Linked DNA regions of Homo sapiens: region 2 is linked to region 1. The links come from fine-mapping of genetic effects on gene expression. A gene starts in region 1. The other region holds a variant in brackets. All regions are shown on one strand. Distances are from middle to middle.

Evidence for each region. PIP is the estimated chance that this variant, and not a neighbour inherited with it, causes the effect.
Region 2: its variant is fine-mapped to the expression of VEZT in whole blood (TOPMed, PIP above 0.99). The same link has a PIP of 0.9 or more in CD4 T cells, Th1/17 cells, blood mononuclear cells, esophagus muscle, follicular helper T cells and liver.

The regions. Positions count from the first base shown.
Region 1 is chr12:95,213,734-95,222,074 of GRCh38, reverse strand. VEZT (vezatin, adherens junctions transmembrane protein) reads right to left here and starts at 4,268. Exons shown (of 12, transcript NM_017599.4): 1 at 4,189-4,268. The coding sequence starts at 4,224. FGD6 (FYVE, RhoGEF and PH domain containing 6) reads left to right here and starts at 4,608. Exons shown (of 21, transcript NM_018351.4): 1 at 4,608-4,850. The coding sequence starts at 4,835. RefSeq lists enhancers at 3,400-3,449, 4,050-4,289, 3,754-4,349, 4,350-4,944, 8,026-8,105 and a silencer at 4,520-4,749.
Region 2 is chr12:95,289,655-95,297,995 of GRCh38, reverse strand. VEZT (vezatin, adherens junctions transmembrane protein) reads right to left here. Exons shown (of 12, transcript NM_017599.4): 10 at 3,624-3,724; 11 at 1,738-1,945. It also overlaps the pseudogene RNU6-808P. Among named protein-coding and RNA genes, the nearest start is that of MIR331, 15 kb to the left of the region's middle. The variant T/C (reference allele first, on the strand shown) is at 4,286.

The DNA.
Region 1 (8,341 bases):
ATGGGGAATTGGTCACAGGACTAGGGCAAATACCCAGTCCATGGATGCTCAAGTCCCTTATATAAAATGGCATAGTATTTGCATATAACATACACACAGTCTCCCACATATTTTAAATCATCTCTAGATTATTTGTAATACCTAATACAATGTGAACACTATGTAAATAGTTGTTATCCTGTATAGTTTTTTTATTTGTATTATTTTTTGAATATTTTTGAGTATTTATTTATTTATTTAGAGATATGGTCTCACTCTGTCACCCAGGCTGGAATTGTAGCTCACTGCAGCCTCAAATTCCTGGGCTCAAGCAATCTTCTGCCTCAGGCTGTGGAGTAGCTGGCATTACAGACATGCATCACCACACCTGGTTAATTTTTTTCTTTTTTTTTTTTAATATGCAGGGTTTTGTTAATGTTGACCAGGCTGGTCTTAAACTCCTGGCTTCAAGCAATATTCCTACCTTAGCCTCCCAAAGTGCTGGGATTACAGGCATGAGCCACCTCACTGGGCCAGAGTATTTCCTTTATTTTTTTTTTTTGAGATGGAATCTTACTCTGTCACCCAGAGCAACCTCCGCCTCCTGGGTTCAAGCGATTCTCATGCCTCAGCCTCTGGAGTAGCTGGGACTACAGGTGCATGCCACCATGCCCAGCTAGTTTTTGTATTTTTTAGTAGAGACTGGGTTTCGCCATGTTGGCCAGGCTGGTCTCAAACTCCTAGCCTCAAGTGATCTGCCTGGCTTAGCTTTCCAAAGTGCTAGGATTATAGGCGTGAGCCACGGTTGGTCCAATCTGCAGATGTGGAACTCTCAGCTAAGGAGGGCCAACTGCATCTCTAACAAAGGACTTGTATCCAGTGTATGTAAATAATTCCTTCAAATCAGCAAGAAAAAGAAACAACCCAATAGAAAAATATGCAAGAAATTTGACGTGGCTTCACAAAATGGATATACAATTGGCTAATAAACACATTAAAAATCTTAACATCTTTATCAAGAAAATACAAATTAAAACCACAAGGAGATACCAGGACATAGCCCCTAGAATCATAAAAAGAAAAACACTAAAATTAGCAAGGGTTGATGAGGATGTGGGGCAATGGGACCTCTCATACATTCCTGGCTGGAGAATAAACTGGTACAACCACTTTGGAATAAAGTTTGGCAATATCTACAGAAATATCTAGGTATTTGCTATGACCCAGCAATTCCATTCCTACATATATATCCACCAGAAATATGTTTAACCAAACACATACAAAAAGGTTCACAGTAGCACTAGTTTAAACCTGGGAACTACTCAATGACCATTAATAGAAGAATGAATTTAAAAATGATCATATATTCACATGGAATACTATGCCAAAATAAAAATTCTCATGTTAACAATATGGACGAATCTCACAAATAAAGCCAGAGAGGAAAAAAAAAAGTCAGAAATAAGAGAGTATATAAATGGAAATGCACAGTGTCTAAACAATAAAAATAGACAAAATTAATCTAGGTTATTATGTTTAAATAGTGATCATTTTGGGGTAGGGAGTAGTGATGGAAAGGACCAGGAGGGAGCTTCTGGTGTGCTGGTGATGTTGTTTCTTTTTTCATTTTTTATTTTTTTGGGGCAGAGTCTGGCTCTGTCATCCAGGCTGGAGTACAGCGGTGCGATCATGGCTCACTGCAGCCTTGACCTACCCAGGCTCAAGTGATTCTCCCACCTCAGCCTCCCGAGTAGCTGGGACTATAGGCATGTGCCACCACGCCCAAATAATTTTTGTCTTTTTTGTAGAGATAGGGTTTCACCATGTTGTCCAGGCTAATCTCAAACTCCTGGGTTCAAGGGATCCATCTGCCTCAGCCTCCCAAAGTGCTGAGATTACAGGTGTGAGCCACCATGCCCCATCTGTCCCGTTTCTTGATCTGGGTGCTGGTTACATGGGTGTGCTCAACATGTGAAAATATAACCATCCACACACTTGTGATCTGTGCCCTGTCCTTATGTAAATTATACTGCAATAAAAATTGTGTATATCAAAGAGCAAACAAACAGCAAACTGGAAATTTTTCTGCAAGTATGACAAAGGCTTAGTAATATATGAAGAACTCACGCAAGTCAATTTTTTTAAAGCTAGCATCTAATAAGAAAATGAGCAACAAATATGAAGAGAAATGTTCAAAGAAATAAAAATAGCTAATAAATGTATAAATGCATAAAATGTAAATTAAAACAATGGAATGTTATTTTTGCCTATCAAATTAGCAAAGATTAAAGGAAACTGTTAAGGCTGTTGTTGAGGATTTGGTGAAACCAATACTCTCTTATTCTTAATGGAAACCGGAATTGGTATAACCTTTCTGCGTAAGTCTTAAATGTTCATATTCTTTCACCCACTAGTTCTACTTCTAAAAATTATTCTGAGGAAAATCAGAGTTGTAGTTAAAAATAGGCTTATATCACTGTTGATTACAATGGTATTTTTTTAAAAAAAGGTTATATTATGATACACGTGAGGGGATATTATAATATTAATGTTTTCAGAGAATGATGAATGGGAAAAGATTCACGATAAAGTCAAGTGAAAAATATATACAAAATTCTACGTGGTATACCTTTTGTTTTAAAAAATATCACACACACATTGTGTCTTAATATAGAGGCTAAAAAATTACACACACATAAACACACATTTACATAGAAATAAAGTCTATAAGAACACATACCGTACTGTTAATAGTTACCATCTTTGGGTGGTGGGATAATGGATGATTTTAACTTGGGGGCTTATTTTCTACAATAAAATGTTCCTTGAGCATATATTACTATTATATTCAGAAATCAAAAATAATGGGTAAAAAAAATACACCCATCAGTTACCCTTACTCTAGAAAATATTTCTCTCTCCTTCAGCTACCACATTCAATCTATAAACATTGCCTCGATTTTAACTTACAAGTGTCTGTCCAAGCCATTATTCCATTACGTCTCTCATTTCATCTCAGGCCCTTGTCTTCCCTAATGAACGCCTCATATCTAGACTCTTCACTTCGGTAAAATGGCCACATTTTCCACTGCTTCTTCATTGCAGCCACATCAAGCCACTTTACATAGCCACCCTCCACACCCCGCCCCCTAAAAATGCACACCAGGTACTTTCACACTTCCCAAGCTTGGCATAATCAGTTCTCTTTCCCTGTAATACATTTTCTCCTGCCGGTTTTTCTAATCCAATTCATAGTTAAAGATTCACCTCGGATATCGCGTACTGGGTGTAGCCTCTGGGAGGCCGCAAGAACAGAAATTAATCCTTCAATGACAGTTTGTACATATTTCAACATTTAGCATTCTGTCCTGTCTGTGCCTCGCTCTCTCGCTGTATGGCATGGGCCACTTCATTTTTAAATTTTCTTAAAATCTAGTTGGATAAATGAAAGTAAAGCGTATACATGCAATACACATACGTACAGGGGTGCGAGTTTTGACCTGTGTCTGATGGAAAAAAATGGCATCAAAAACACTCGCCCGATTTTTTTCATTCAAGATGGCAGAGAACGTCTTAAAATAGTCCCACACAAAAGCACTCACATCTAGAGCCCCGAGTCAGAAGAACTGGCTACACCTAGCGCAACAGCAAAGGACAAAAGAATCGAATCTAGATGCTGAGATGCCCTGGCCCTAACTACCCACAGTAGGTCCCACAAATAGACTTTAAACCGTGTTAGAAAACGGGCACCTGCTGCCTTCATTCCGAGGGCCACGCCTTGACGGTGAACAGTGACCTGAAGCACTCTGGATACTGACCCAAAAAAATCGCGGATGGAAAAGGAGGAGGCTAAGTTGTGACTATCTAAAAGGCACGATTCGGCCCCGCCCCAGCCGGGCGCAGTCCCCCCCGCCGCACATCCATTCCCAGGAAGGAAGAGACACCGCTCCAGCCCAGAGCCTGGCAACCGGGCACCGTCTGGGAATTCTGGGCGGGCCCGAGATAGAGGCCGGCCACGGCCAGGGCGCCTCTGGCTACACCTGTCAGGCGACGACGGACTCTAGGCCCTGAAATCGCTGGGGTTCGGTGGTCGAGGCCAGCTGGAGCGCGTCACCCGATCCCTCGCCCCGGGAACGCCTTGCTTCCTCGATTTCCGTCTCGTCCTTCTCAAACAAAGGCAATCCACACCCACCGCCATTTTCCTCTTACCTCAAAAACCACCTCTTCGTCAAACTCCGGTGTCATCCTTCTCCGCCATGCCACCCGCCTCAGCACGATGGGAAATGAAGGCGGGAGTACAGGCGGCACGGAGCTCCAGCTCCTGCCCGTCCCGTGGGTCCAGAAAACTACAATTCCCAATATGCCTCGCCGCTCACGCCCCCTTTTCGAGCCCGCTTATTGGAGAAGAGAGTGAGCGTGTAAGCGAGAGAGGCGGGAGCGAGCTGAAGCTCGAGCCCTCCGATTGGAGGAGGCTAGGGCTTTTGTCTGCCTTTTACGGCCGCGACTAGCAGGGGGCGCCCGGAGCACTGCTGATTTTTGGAGCCCGAGAAGGGCACGCGCCAGCGGAGCCGAAGAGAGCACTGCTCGTGCCCGCGCCTGGCTGTCAGCCTGCCGCTCTGCGGGGCGGTGCTAGTGCTCGCCCGCCCGACCCCGGCGGCTCGCGCCCGGGAGCGCCGCAGGGTCGCTAGAGTCGGCCGCGTCCTTTGTGTGGCGCTCAGGCTGCGCCGCGGGGCGGCGGGACGGAATGTGGGCGCTGCGGGGGCTTTTCTCTCCTACCCGAACTGTGGGAACAATGGACTGAAAGGGGAAGATGGATTGAGGGGCCGAGCGGGGAAGCGAGCTGCACCGGGGAATCATGACTTCTGCAGCCGGTAAGTGACGGCGCTCGCGCTGCCGCGGGAAAGTTTGTGGCGAGCGCTGCTAGGCTTGGGCTCGCGAGCAACTTTCTTCGCCGGGGTGGGCGAGTTGTGTGCCCCGTACCTTTGCCGAGCACCTCGGCAAGCGCGGAGCTAATGGGATTCGCTGCCGGCTTTCTCGTCTTTTCCTGCCCAGAGGGGCTGTTTGGAAACCCGGGATTTCTCGGGATCTCCCTTCCAAGGGGGACTGTGCTGGGGGCTCTGCACCAGGTGAAATGCGATGTGTGAAGGGCGTTCGCTCATCTCTCCAGCAGTGCGAGGACTTCGCCTTTGCATGTGAAAATAGTGTAGATTCCCAAGTTAATAGATCAGTTATTATAGGTAAAGGCAGTGTTCTCAGCGTGTTCAATTTGGCCACTAAGTGAGTCGCTTTCAACCTTGTATCTGCTGGTAAACCTTTTACCCATTTTAAAGAGGCGTAGACATTGTCATGTCCTGGTGGTTTTACCTCTGTTACCTGAGAAGCAGAGGAGTTGAGATTGTTGAGGTTTTTTTTTTTTTTTTTTTTTTGCTTGTCTGCACCCAATTACAATTATTTTGTTTGTTTCTACCTGATTAGGGTAAACAAAGCTTTATTTTCTGTCTGCCTCCCATAGTTCTTTCCCCTTCATCCAAATGACAAAGCCTCTATCTTTGTGTGGATTTTCAGCAATTCTAGACGTTGTGTTTCTGAACATTCTTAAGGAACAATTTCTGTTTTACAAAATAATTACCAAAGTGGTGTTACGTTCACTTCGTAAGTACATAGGTTAATTTTTAAACCAGAACTTATGTATTAAGTAGAGTGTTATGGGTTATTTTACGTTTTTGTCCACGTTGAAACTTTCATTAGAAATTTTATAGTGAAATAGTTTAAAGCTTCTTCTCAAGGTTACTTCCAGAATCAGCACTTAAGTATCAGATTAAATTTTCATTGCTTTTCTTGGCATTTGTTTAAAATTCTTGCAACTTGAAACTGTCCAACAGCACTCAAATGTTCTGATTTGTATTATTTCTAAAGCCTAGATATATTGTAGTGTTGCATTGCTCCCTGTGATCAGATTACAACAAACGAAACAAGAAGTTAGCCAATAGGAAAAGAAAGCAAGAAGTGGGTGTTGTGTGGGTCTTTCCTTTTTGATGTTATATGCACTTATATGAGATATCTTTATAAACTCTCTTTTCTTTGCCAAAGGGAGGCTTTATACTTACATAAGGTAAATTATTTTCATCCTACATTTCTGTGCCTTACCTTCGTTCAAGAAATTGATTTAAATTAAAAGTGGTTGGAAATTTTAAAATCCTTCCAGCCAGTTTTAGCTCTTTCCTTTTTGGAGGTGTCAAATGTATTTAAAATAACCGTGTCTTATATGTATCAGTTTTCAATTCCAGTCTTAACAGTTTATAAGGAACAGGCACAGAAGCATGTAATTTCACATTTATGTAAACCCAATTTCTAGGGCCCAGACTGGAAGTTCATGATTCTTGCATTTGAATTATCCTAAAATAATGCAAGCTATTTTTGTATTTTATCAACTTTACAATTAAAGAAATCCACAGAAATTTTTGTGGTGTTTAAAGTGGGACACTTCCTGTGTCTAGCCGAGTTGGTTGGTTTTTAGCATTGCTGGCTGAGAAGCATCAACTACTTTTTTGCTCACCCATCTGTTGGATTTATCATAATTCTTTCTGGTGTCTAGATGGGGAATATGGAAGAGAACTGGGGTTTTATTTCTACCCATTCTTATATGTATACATAGTTCTTACAAGCTGATTATGGTGCTTTTTGGGAACAATAGTCAAATTCATTGAAACGTTTAGGAAAGTTACTTGAAGTTAAGGGAGGGGATTTTTGCTTTTGAATCTAATCTGTGGTATTTGGAAGGGTTGGTTTAATTTAAGAAAATAAAAGGAATGTTGTAGAACATCTAGGTTATATGTATCCAGCAGAAAAGCTTGCTTTGTTTTTCTACATCTATAAAATAATCTGCCCTTAGTGGAGATTTCAGAATTATTTTAAGCTGTATATGAAAAAGGAGAGGCTGGGCGCAGTGGCTCAAGCCTGTAATTCCATCACTTTGGGAGGCCAAGGCGGGTGGATCACTTGAGGTCAGGAGTTTGAGACCAGCCTGGCCAACATGGCAAAACCCTGTCTCTACTAAAAATACAAAAATTAGCCAGGTGTGGTGGGGTGCGCCTGTAGTCCCAGCTATTCGGGAGGCTGATATGAAAATTGCTTGAGCCAGCGAGGCGGAGGTTGTGGTGAGCCGAGATCGAGCCACTGCACTCTAGCCTGGGTGACAGAGCAAGACTCCATCTCAAAAAAAAAAAAAAAAAAAGAAAAAAGGAGAGAGAATTATAGGTATATATAGGTATATATTTTGTGTCCTTTTGAACATGTACAGGTCACTGTCTTCATTGTCTGTGCTTTGCGTTTTGGCTGGTCCAGTAGCCAGAGAGTGTACACGTGAACCACAGCCATCTGTGTGTAACAGATGACGAGTATGTTTGTAATAGTTAGTAAAATGGTACTAGTGCTTTACTTTCTTACCTTATATTTCCCTGGAGCCAAACAGCTGTGTAAATAAAAGATTTGCTGCTTTGCTCTAAGAAGCTTTGGGTCTGACTGTTGATGCAGTATTAAGATCCAAAGGTGCTAGATTTATTGCCAAATGTCATGCACTTATTTCACATTGGAGTAGACCATAATATAATGGCTTATTATTTTTTGAGTTGTGTTTCTTCCAAAATAGAGCCATGAAAAAAAAATAATGAAGGATTTTGGATATTGCTCTACCAGTGACTTAGTTGAACACTTGTTCCTATTAATAATTAAGGAATTTTTCAATAATCGTATTGAAATTGATTCCTGCTAACTTTTCAAAATATTATTCTACATTAAAATGGATGTACATTTTTGAATGTGATTATTTTTAAAGAAGAAATTTTCTGTTATGGAGACATATTAAAGAGTATGTGTATGTGGCAGCTGTGATTATTCCCAGGCCCTGTTGTTAGCACTGGGATACATCAGTGAATGAGACAAAGTGCCTGCCCTTCTGGAGCTTGTGTCTTATGCTGAACACAGACAAAGGTGAACTGAAAAAACATCAACGCAGGAGACAGAGGCCACAGTACATGAGGTTCTTCTGAAATGAGTGTCTCAGAAGTTATCATCTCAGATTCCTATGGGCTTTAGAGGCCTGTTCAACTCCCCCATTTATAAGGAAGGAAAGTGAGGCAGCCAGGTCTGTACAAGGCCCACAATTAGGTTAGCCAGCTCCCTGAGTTATGTCTGTGACTTCCTTCAATACACAGTTAACTAACAATGGCAAGCCCAAGTTCACAGTTATTAATTGAATTCAGTGAGTATGCGTTGAGGGTTTTATGTACGTAATAGGACTTTGCTATATTTATTGGGAATCAACTCCAGCACATACGTAGTTAATTGAATTTCTGTGACACTA
Region 2 (8,341 bases), 76 kb before region 1:
GGTGTGCGCCATCACACCTGGCTAATTTTTGTATTTTTAGTAGAGAGGGGGTTTCGCCATGTTGGCCAGGCTGGTCTTGAACTCCTGACCTCAAGTGATCCACCTGCCTTGGCCTCCCAAAGTGTTGGAATTAGAGGCGTGAGCCACTGTGCTTGGCCAGCATGAATTTTTTTCATGAATAAAAATAACACATTTGTGAACTGTAGTTTAATTCGATAAACATAAGAAGATATCTATAGTAAAAACAGTAGAAAATATAATTGGATAGATGAATTCTTATGATGAAGAGACTTGAAAACAGGAAAAAGAGTTTAGATTCAACACAATAAGAAAGGGAGAAACCACTATAGGTTTTAAGATAGAGAGCCATCATCAATGCAGTGTTGGAGAAAAATCTGCAAAGAGTTTGCAAGATAGCTTAGAAGAAAAAAGTACTGAAAATGGAAGTCAGCTAAGAAGGTATTTTAATGTACAAGGATAATCTACTGAGGACCTGGGCTATAAAGGGGGCCAATGGGAAGAAAGAGGAATGATAAAACCAAGAAATGCAGATCTGGACAGGAGAAAACATAGGGCTCCTGAGGGGAAAAAAAAAAAGAGAACTGGAGGAACTTTCCAGAAGTATAGGTAATCTATGTACTTCTAGTGAGGAGGGAAAAGCAGGGCAGTTGATTTCGAGGGTCCACACAGATACTGTAAAATGGAAGAGAATCCACACTCTACCTACTTAGAAATCCATAGGCATTAATTCAACTAAGAATTAGCTAGGTTGATACTGTCAAGTATTAAGCTTCCCCTGATTCCTTCCCTGTCTCCCATGAAGTTTGACTTAAGAAAAGAAGGGTGAGAAACAGAAAGGAATGTAAGGCTTTTGTATTACCAGCTACCCCACTCTGCTGAAATCAGAGTATGGGGAGTACGCCCACAGGCACCCTGCTCCCCTCCCATCTACTAAAGTGCTCAAACCACTTAAATAATGCTAATGATGTGGCTCACTGGTCTAGGTTTTAATTCCTTTTTTTTCTTTTCTTTTCTTTTCTTTCTTTTTTTCTTTTTGAGATGGAGTCTCCCTCTGTTGCCCAGGCTGGAGTGCAGTGGCGTGATCTTGGCTCACTGAAACCTCCGCCTCCCGGGTTCAAGTGATTCTCCTGCCTCAGCCTCTCGAGTAGCTGGGACTACAGGCACGCGCCACCATGCCTTGTTAATTTTTGTATTTTTAGTAGAGATGGGGTTTCGCCATGTTGGCCAGGCTGGTCTTGAACTCCTGACCTCAAATGATCCACCCGCCTCAGCTTCCCAACGTGCTGATATTACAAGCATGTGCCGCTGCGCCTGGGCCATTTTTTTCAATGTGAGCACAGTTATTAATTTTGTGCTTCACTGAGGTATTTTTAAATATTTTAACATATGGACAACAGAGTTGAGAATCTCAAATTCACTAAATTTGAAAATAACATTTAAAATATCCCAAATTATTCAACTCACTGCCCATTCTAAAACAAATTTACTAAAAAATTAAATAACTCATAAAAAAGTATGACTTCATATTTCCAATGTGGTTACATTCCTACTCTTTTATTAATCAAATTGATTTAGCATCTAGAAGAAAAAGTACTATGCATACTGGTGGACCCTTATAAAACCCCAAGAATTCTTCAGCTAAAATAACATTCATGGTTCAAGAAAGAAAGAATCCCCTACATTGAAATAACCTGTTACTTTAAAGTCAGTGCTTACCATGATCACTAAATAGAAGTTGCTTCCACTTCTGCCTTTCTGCCTCTGAAGCTTTAAATCCCAGCACAGATTTTAATTCTTGGAGCACCCTCTTGGATTCTTCATGCTCACGCTTCTGTCTCTCTTTGTCTTCTTGAGACAAGTAATAAAAATCATCCTTTCTGAAATCACTATCAATATCTATATCATCTACATAAGCTTCTAATTCCTGAAAATGAATAGAAGAAAAAGCACTTTACTTGAAGCAAACAATTCTCTAGTAAGCATTCATTTACTTGCACTTACTTATCTCTGAGATTAAAAAAAAAGGACTTGCATTTGGCACAGGTCATTAAAGCAGAGCTAGGAAAAGAAAAAAGCAAATATATACCTATGGATAAATTGAAATCTTCAAAAACAACCTAACAGTTGATACTAAAAAGCATTGTGGATAAAAAAAGTTTAACAACTTCAGTAGTTATTTTTCTACTCTGGTAACATACCATACACTTAGTGTTACAGCCATTAGCTATATCAAAACCAATCAAAATTAGAAGGGCTGGCACTTTGGGGAGGTGGTCAGGCATGTTTGTTTTCTTGTGGTTCTTTCAGATTTCCCAGGAAGTTTGAACATTCTTCCTAGGATTAGGGAACACCCCACCTTATGGTTCTCCCTATCTCTAAGACAGAGAGGGTAGGATGCTTGCTTACCCAAGCAGTATCCTTACAGTATAGGCTCAGGTAAATGACCTGGGATTCTCTAATCGACGTACCTGCATCAGATCGGACTTAGAAGTCTGAGATAAAAGAAGCAGGCACCAGCCGGGCGCGGTGGCTCATGCCTGTAATCCCAGCACTTTGGGAGGCTGAGGCAGGCGGATCACGAGGTCAGGAGTTCAAGACCAGCCTGGCCAAGATGGTGAAACCCTGTCTCTACTAAAAACTACAAAAATTAGCCAGGCGCGGTGGCAGGCACCTGTAATCCCAGCTACTCAGGAGGCTGAGGCAGGAGAATCGCTTGAACACGGGCAACAGAGGTTGCAGTGAGCCGAGATCGCGCCCCTGCACTCCAGCCTGGGCCACAGAGTGAGACTCGGTCTCATATAAAAAAGAACCAAGCACTTTGGAAAATCTATTCTGGCAGGATGTTGCAGATATGTTTCTTGAAGTAGCACTTCTGGAGGTTAAGTTTTACTATTCAGCATTGACGAAGCAAGGGGCAATGTCTCCACCCATTAACTTAGCAATGATAGTTCCATTGCAACAGTTCTTTTGAGTGATTTGGCTGTTTACCCTAGCATCATTCAAGCCTGCTTATCTAGCTCTCTGAAATATTCTGTAAGCTACCTAAAAGTTTAAATAAAGTATCTGTCTGTTAAACTAACTAGGGTTGGTTTCCATTTGCAATTAAGAATACTGAATAGTAACTTGTTATGCAATATACACGGAAAAAAAATACTGAATAGATAATATGACCTAAGGAAAAGAGGTTTTCCTTACAATGAACAAAAGTAACCTTTGTCAATATCCAATGCGATCATTAAAAAATTGTTTTTAAAAGTGAGGTATATCATAGTACATGCAGTCAAGTGCACAGGATTTTTACATATGTACACATACCAGTAACTGCTACTCAGATCAAGATAAACACATTTCCAGCATCCCAAAAGGTAGCTTTGCCAATGTACTAATTTTCAATGTGTTTAATCACTTTTGAAAGCCACTCAGATATAGACAATTAGATATAAATAACAATCAAAAAAAAGTCTGCAGGCAGATTCAATGAATTCAGAGTTAAGCACTAAGAACTAATGATCTGATATAAATTCAATATATTATGTTGTAATTTTGAAGCTCATTAGAAACAGAAATCCAACAAGGGAAAGAACAGTAATTTTCACCCTTACCTGCTCCTCTGGGATTGGATCTTTGTCTGCAATGTGTAGAGTAGGCTGCTTCAAAGGTACTACTGTACAATGTGGGTTTTCACATGCTATTTCAGGCTTGCCTTTAAAAAACGGGAATAGATGGGAATAAAGATAAGAAACAGACCACACAGAAATGAGTGAACATCTAATTAAAAACACCCTTGGGGCCAGGTGTGGTGGCTCATGCCTGTAATCCCAGCACTTCGGGAGGCTGAGGCAGGAGGATCGCTTGAGCCCAGGAGTTCAACACCAGCCTGGAAACAAAGACTCTGTCGCTACAAAAACTGAAATAAAAATTGGCTGGGCATGGTGGTGCACACCTGTAATCCCAGCTACTTGGGAGGCTGAGGTGGAAGGATCGCTTGAGCTGGGGAGATCAAGACTACAGTGAGCAGTGATCACACCACTGCACTCCAGCCTGGGCAACAGAGCTAGATCCTGTCTCCCCCAACCAAAAAAATCCTTGGTACTAATACTTTGTCAATTTCATAGTCCAACTTGTTCTAATAACTTTGTATTTATAAAAACATAAAGATATTAAAGTGAAAAACAATAAATTAGTAGATTTACAACTTAACTTTAAGTCTTTAAACTCTTGGAGAAGAGGACCTGCCCTTCTCTCTTCACCTCTTCACAGTATC[T/C]GGTACACACCAGGTACTCTGTAAGTACTTGTTGAACAAAATATTATCATTCACAGCATAGGAACAGTCTTAAGACAGACCATCACTCTTCTTCACAAAATACAAACTTCAAACTTACCCTGAGGCTATTTTAACACTCAGAGGTTGGAATTGGAAATGAATTCACAAGGAAATATCTTTTAAAGATCACCCAAGTGAGTTTAACTTTGATTAATTCTTAAAATTTATGTTTGGTATTTAATGACAGGGTTACTTAGTCTCATATCCAGGTGGCTATCATTAATCATTATCTTTCTACTTAAAAAAAAGAAGTATGGTTTAAACTTGTTGATTTTTAATTTTCAAAAGTAACAATAGTTAAATGGTTAAAATAAAGAAGTATTTGGGAAATGTTACAAAAAATGACTGATTAGTTTGTAGGCAAGATGGCAGAACGATGAATAAATTAATAGGAAGCACTAATGAGAGACAGAATAGCACAGTGGCTAAGAGCTGTAGAGTTAGTCACACCTGGGTTACATCCCAGCTCTTGCTGCTTTCTAGTTTAAATTATAGTTAACTGGCTGGGCACAGTGGCTCACGCCTGTAATCCTAGCACTTTGGGAGGCCAAGGCAGGAGGATCATGAGGTCAGGAGTTTGAGACCAGCCTGACCAACATGGTGAAACCCCCATCTCTACTAAAAATAGAAAAATTAGCCAGGCATGGTGGTATGTACCTGTAATCCCAGCTACTCAGGAGGCTGAGGCAGAAGAATCGTTTGAACCCGGGAGATGGAGGTTGCAGTGAGCCAAGATTGCATCATTACACTCCAGCCTGGGCAACAGAGCAAGACTCTGTCTCAAAAAAAAAAAAAAAAAAAAAGGGCCAGGTACAGTGGCTCACACCTGTAATTCCAGCACTTTGGGAGGCTAAGGTGGGTGGATCACGAGGTCAAGAGTTTGAGACCAGCCTGGCTAATATGGTGAAACCCCATCTCTAATAAAAACACAAAAATTAGCTGGGTATGGTGGCATGCGCCTGTAGTCCCAGCTATTTGGGAGGCTGAGGCAGGAGAATTGCTTGAACTTGGGAGGCGGAGGTTGCAGTGAGGCGAGATCGCGCCACTGCACTCCAGCCTGGGCGACAGAGTGCGACTTTGTCTCAAAAAAAAAAAAAAAAAATTACAGTTATCTGTAGAACAGTGGTGAAAATAATAGTACTATCTTGTAAGATTAAAAAAGAATACATGAAAAGTGCCTGCTACAGATTACATGCTCAAAAACTGCCATTATTGCCTAATTAGCAGAACACAGATTTCATTACATCAATGGTGACACCATATATCGAGTTCTTTGAATGAAAAGAAAAAAAACCAAATAAATCCATAAGACTATTATTAATAGCAATAAACAGGTACATTAAACAGTGTGCTGGCAATCCAGCTCTAAACAAAACAAAACACCCAATTTGCAGCACTTCCTGATTTCCAGTTCCCATGGTGTAAATGCACCCACTGTGACCAATTTTAAGCTACCAATGATGTTAAACTGACTCACAAATTTCTGAATATTTAACAATCTTTGGAGAGCTAGCTCCAGCATGCAATCCATTTAACAAAAATCTAGCAAGAGGCCGGATGTGGTGGCTCAAGCCTGTAATCTCAGCACTTTGGGAGGCTGATATGGGCTGATCACTTGAGGTTAGGAGTTGGAGACCAGCCTGGCCAACATGACGAAAACCCATCTCTACCAAAAAACACAAAAACTAGCTGGGCATGGTGGTGCATGGCTGTAGTTCCAGCTATTCGAGAGGCTGAGGCAGGAGGATCATTTGAACCTGGGACGCACAGCTTGCAGTGAGCTGAAATTGCGCCAATGCACTCCACACTCCAGCCTGCACAACACAGTGAGACTCTGTCTCAAAAACAAACAAACACAAAAAGCCTAAAAAAATTTTAAAAACCCACCAGATTTTTAATTACATGCTTGCAGTAATAGCTTTTACAAACAGCACAGAAGGTTATAAAGTGAAAAAAGCTCCCTGAAGACCTTATCCCTCAATTCTACTGTCTGAAAGCAGGGGCTTGCCAAATCTGCCCCACTGCCTGTTCTTGTAAATACATTTTTCCTAGAACACAGCCACACTCATTTAAGTATAGTCTATGGGTGCTTTCACATTACAACAGCAGAGTAAAGTAGTTGTAACAGACACCATATGGCCTGCAAGGCAGAAAATCTTTAGAGGAAAAAAATTGCAGACCTTTATCCCAGAGCAATGCTTCTCAAATTTCTCACACTTTAACGTGGATGCAACTACCAGATCTTATTAAAATACAGGTGGATTTAAAGTCAGGGGTGCATTTGTAACAAGCTCTCATGTGATGCTTATATGCTAGTCTGGGGACCACTCTGAATAACAAGGCCCTAGAGGTAATAAATATGAAGCGTTTTAAAATAATGTGACACACACACATACACATGCGCACACACATATATTTTTGAGACAGGGTCTCACTGTGTCACCAAGGATGGAGTGCAGTTGTGCAATCATGGCTCACTGAAGCCTCGACCTCCTGGGCTCAAACAATCTTTCCACCTCAGCCTCCCAAGTAACTTTTTGTTTTTTTTGGTAGAGATGGGGTTTTGCCATATTGCCCAAGCTGGTCTCAAACTACTGGTTTCAAGTGATCCTCCCTCCTTGGGCTCCCAAAGTGCTGAGATTATAGGCATGAGCCACCGCACCTGGCCTGTGATATTTTTAACAATGGGAAACTTTATTAACTGGAGATTCTTTTCTATGGTAATCCTCGAGTAATGCCAAAGTTATAACCTATTCTCAATGATTTCCTGAGCTTACCACAATATATATGTAGATATATATGTGTATATATATGTATATGTGTATACATACATATTTATATAAATTCTATATAAAATATGGAATGATTCATGAATTTGTACATCATCCTTACACAAAGGACATGTTAATTTTCTCTGTATCATTCTAATTTCAATACATGTGCCGCCAAAGCCAAGTACCCTAATCTTGGTTTCTAAATGCCATTGCCATTAAAAGATTTTACAAGCCATTCCTCCCTCCATCTCCAATTCCTTGCAACTACTGATCTGTTTTCTGTTCCTTTGCCAACTTAAGAGTACCTCATAAGTGGAATAACATAGTATGTAGTGGTTTGAATGTGATGTCTTTCACTTGGCATAATGTATTGAGATTCATTCATCGTGTTGTATGCATTGGTAGTTCACTTTTTTTGTTGCCGAGTAGTATTTCACTGTATGGATGGATGTAACAGCTTAGTCACCTCCCAAAGCCTAGCTGCTTCTAGTTTTAGTTTATAAACAAAATATTTATGTATAGGCTTTTGTGTGAACACTAAGTTTTTATATTTCTTGGTTAAATACGTAGGAATGATACTACTGGGTCATATGGTATATGCATTCATAGTGGTTAAAATTTTGATGAAGAAAGCATATTTATAAAACCTCAGAGTATTTCTTTACAAAATATTTATCATGAAAGACTTTAAGGAAAAGGAGAATAAAGAGCATGACAACTGAACACCATGCACAATCTAGGTCTAGACATATAAAAAATATTGGGACAATCAGGGAAATTTGAATGGGTTCTGTGGATAAAATGACAATATCATGGTTGGTGTTCATTTTCTGATTTTGATGGTATACTGTGGGTACACAGGAGAATGTTCCTGTTTTACAAAAATGCATACAGAAATATTTAGGGGTAATGGGGCTTCAAGTCTACAACTTACTCTCAAATGGCTCAGAGTAACACCACCATCAAAAGAATTACACACACATACAGATACATACATAGATAAGGCAATTGTGACAGAATGTCAACAACTAGGGAATATTGATGAAGGAGACTTTCAACTATTGCAACTTTTCTGTAAGTTTGAAATGATTTCAAAATAAGACCTTTTTAAAAAAAGATATGGCTAACTAAAGTACCTGCTTCTTAAAATATTCAAATGAACATTTTTTAAATTTAAACCTGTGTAGTCATGGCCACTGTGAATTTTTTAGTGAAAAAAGTT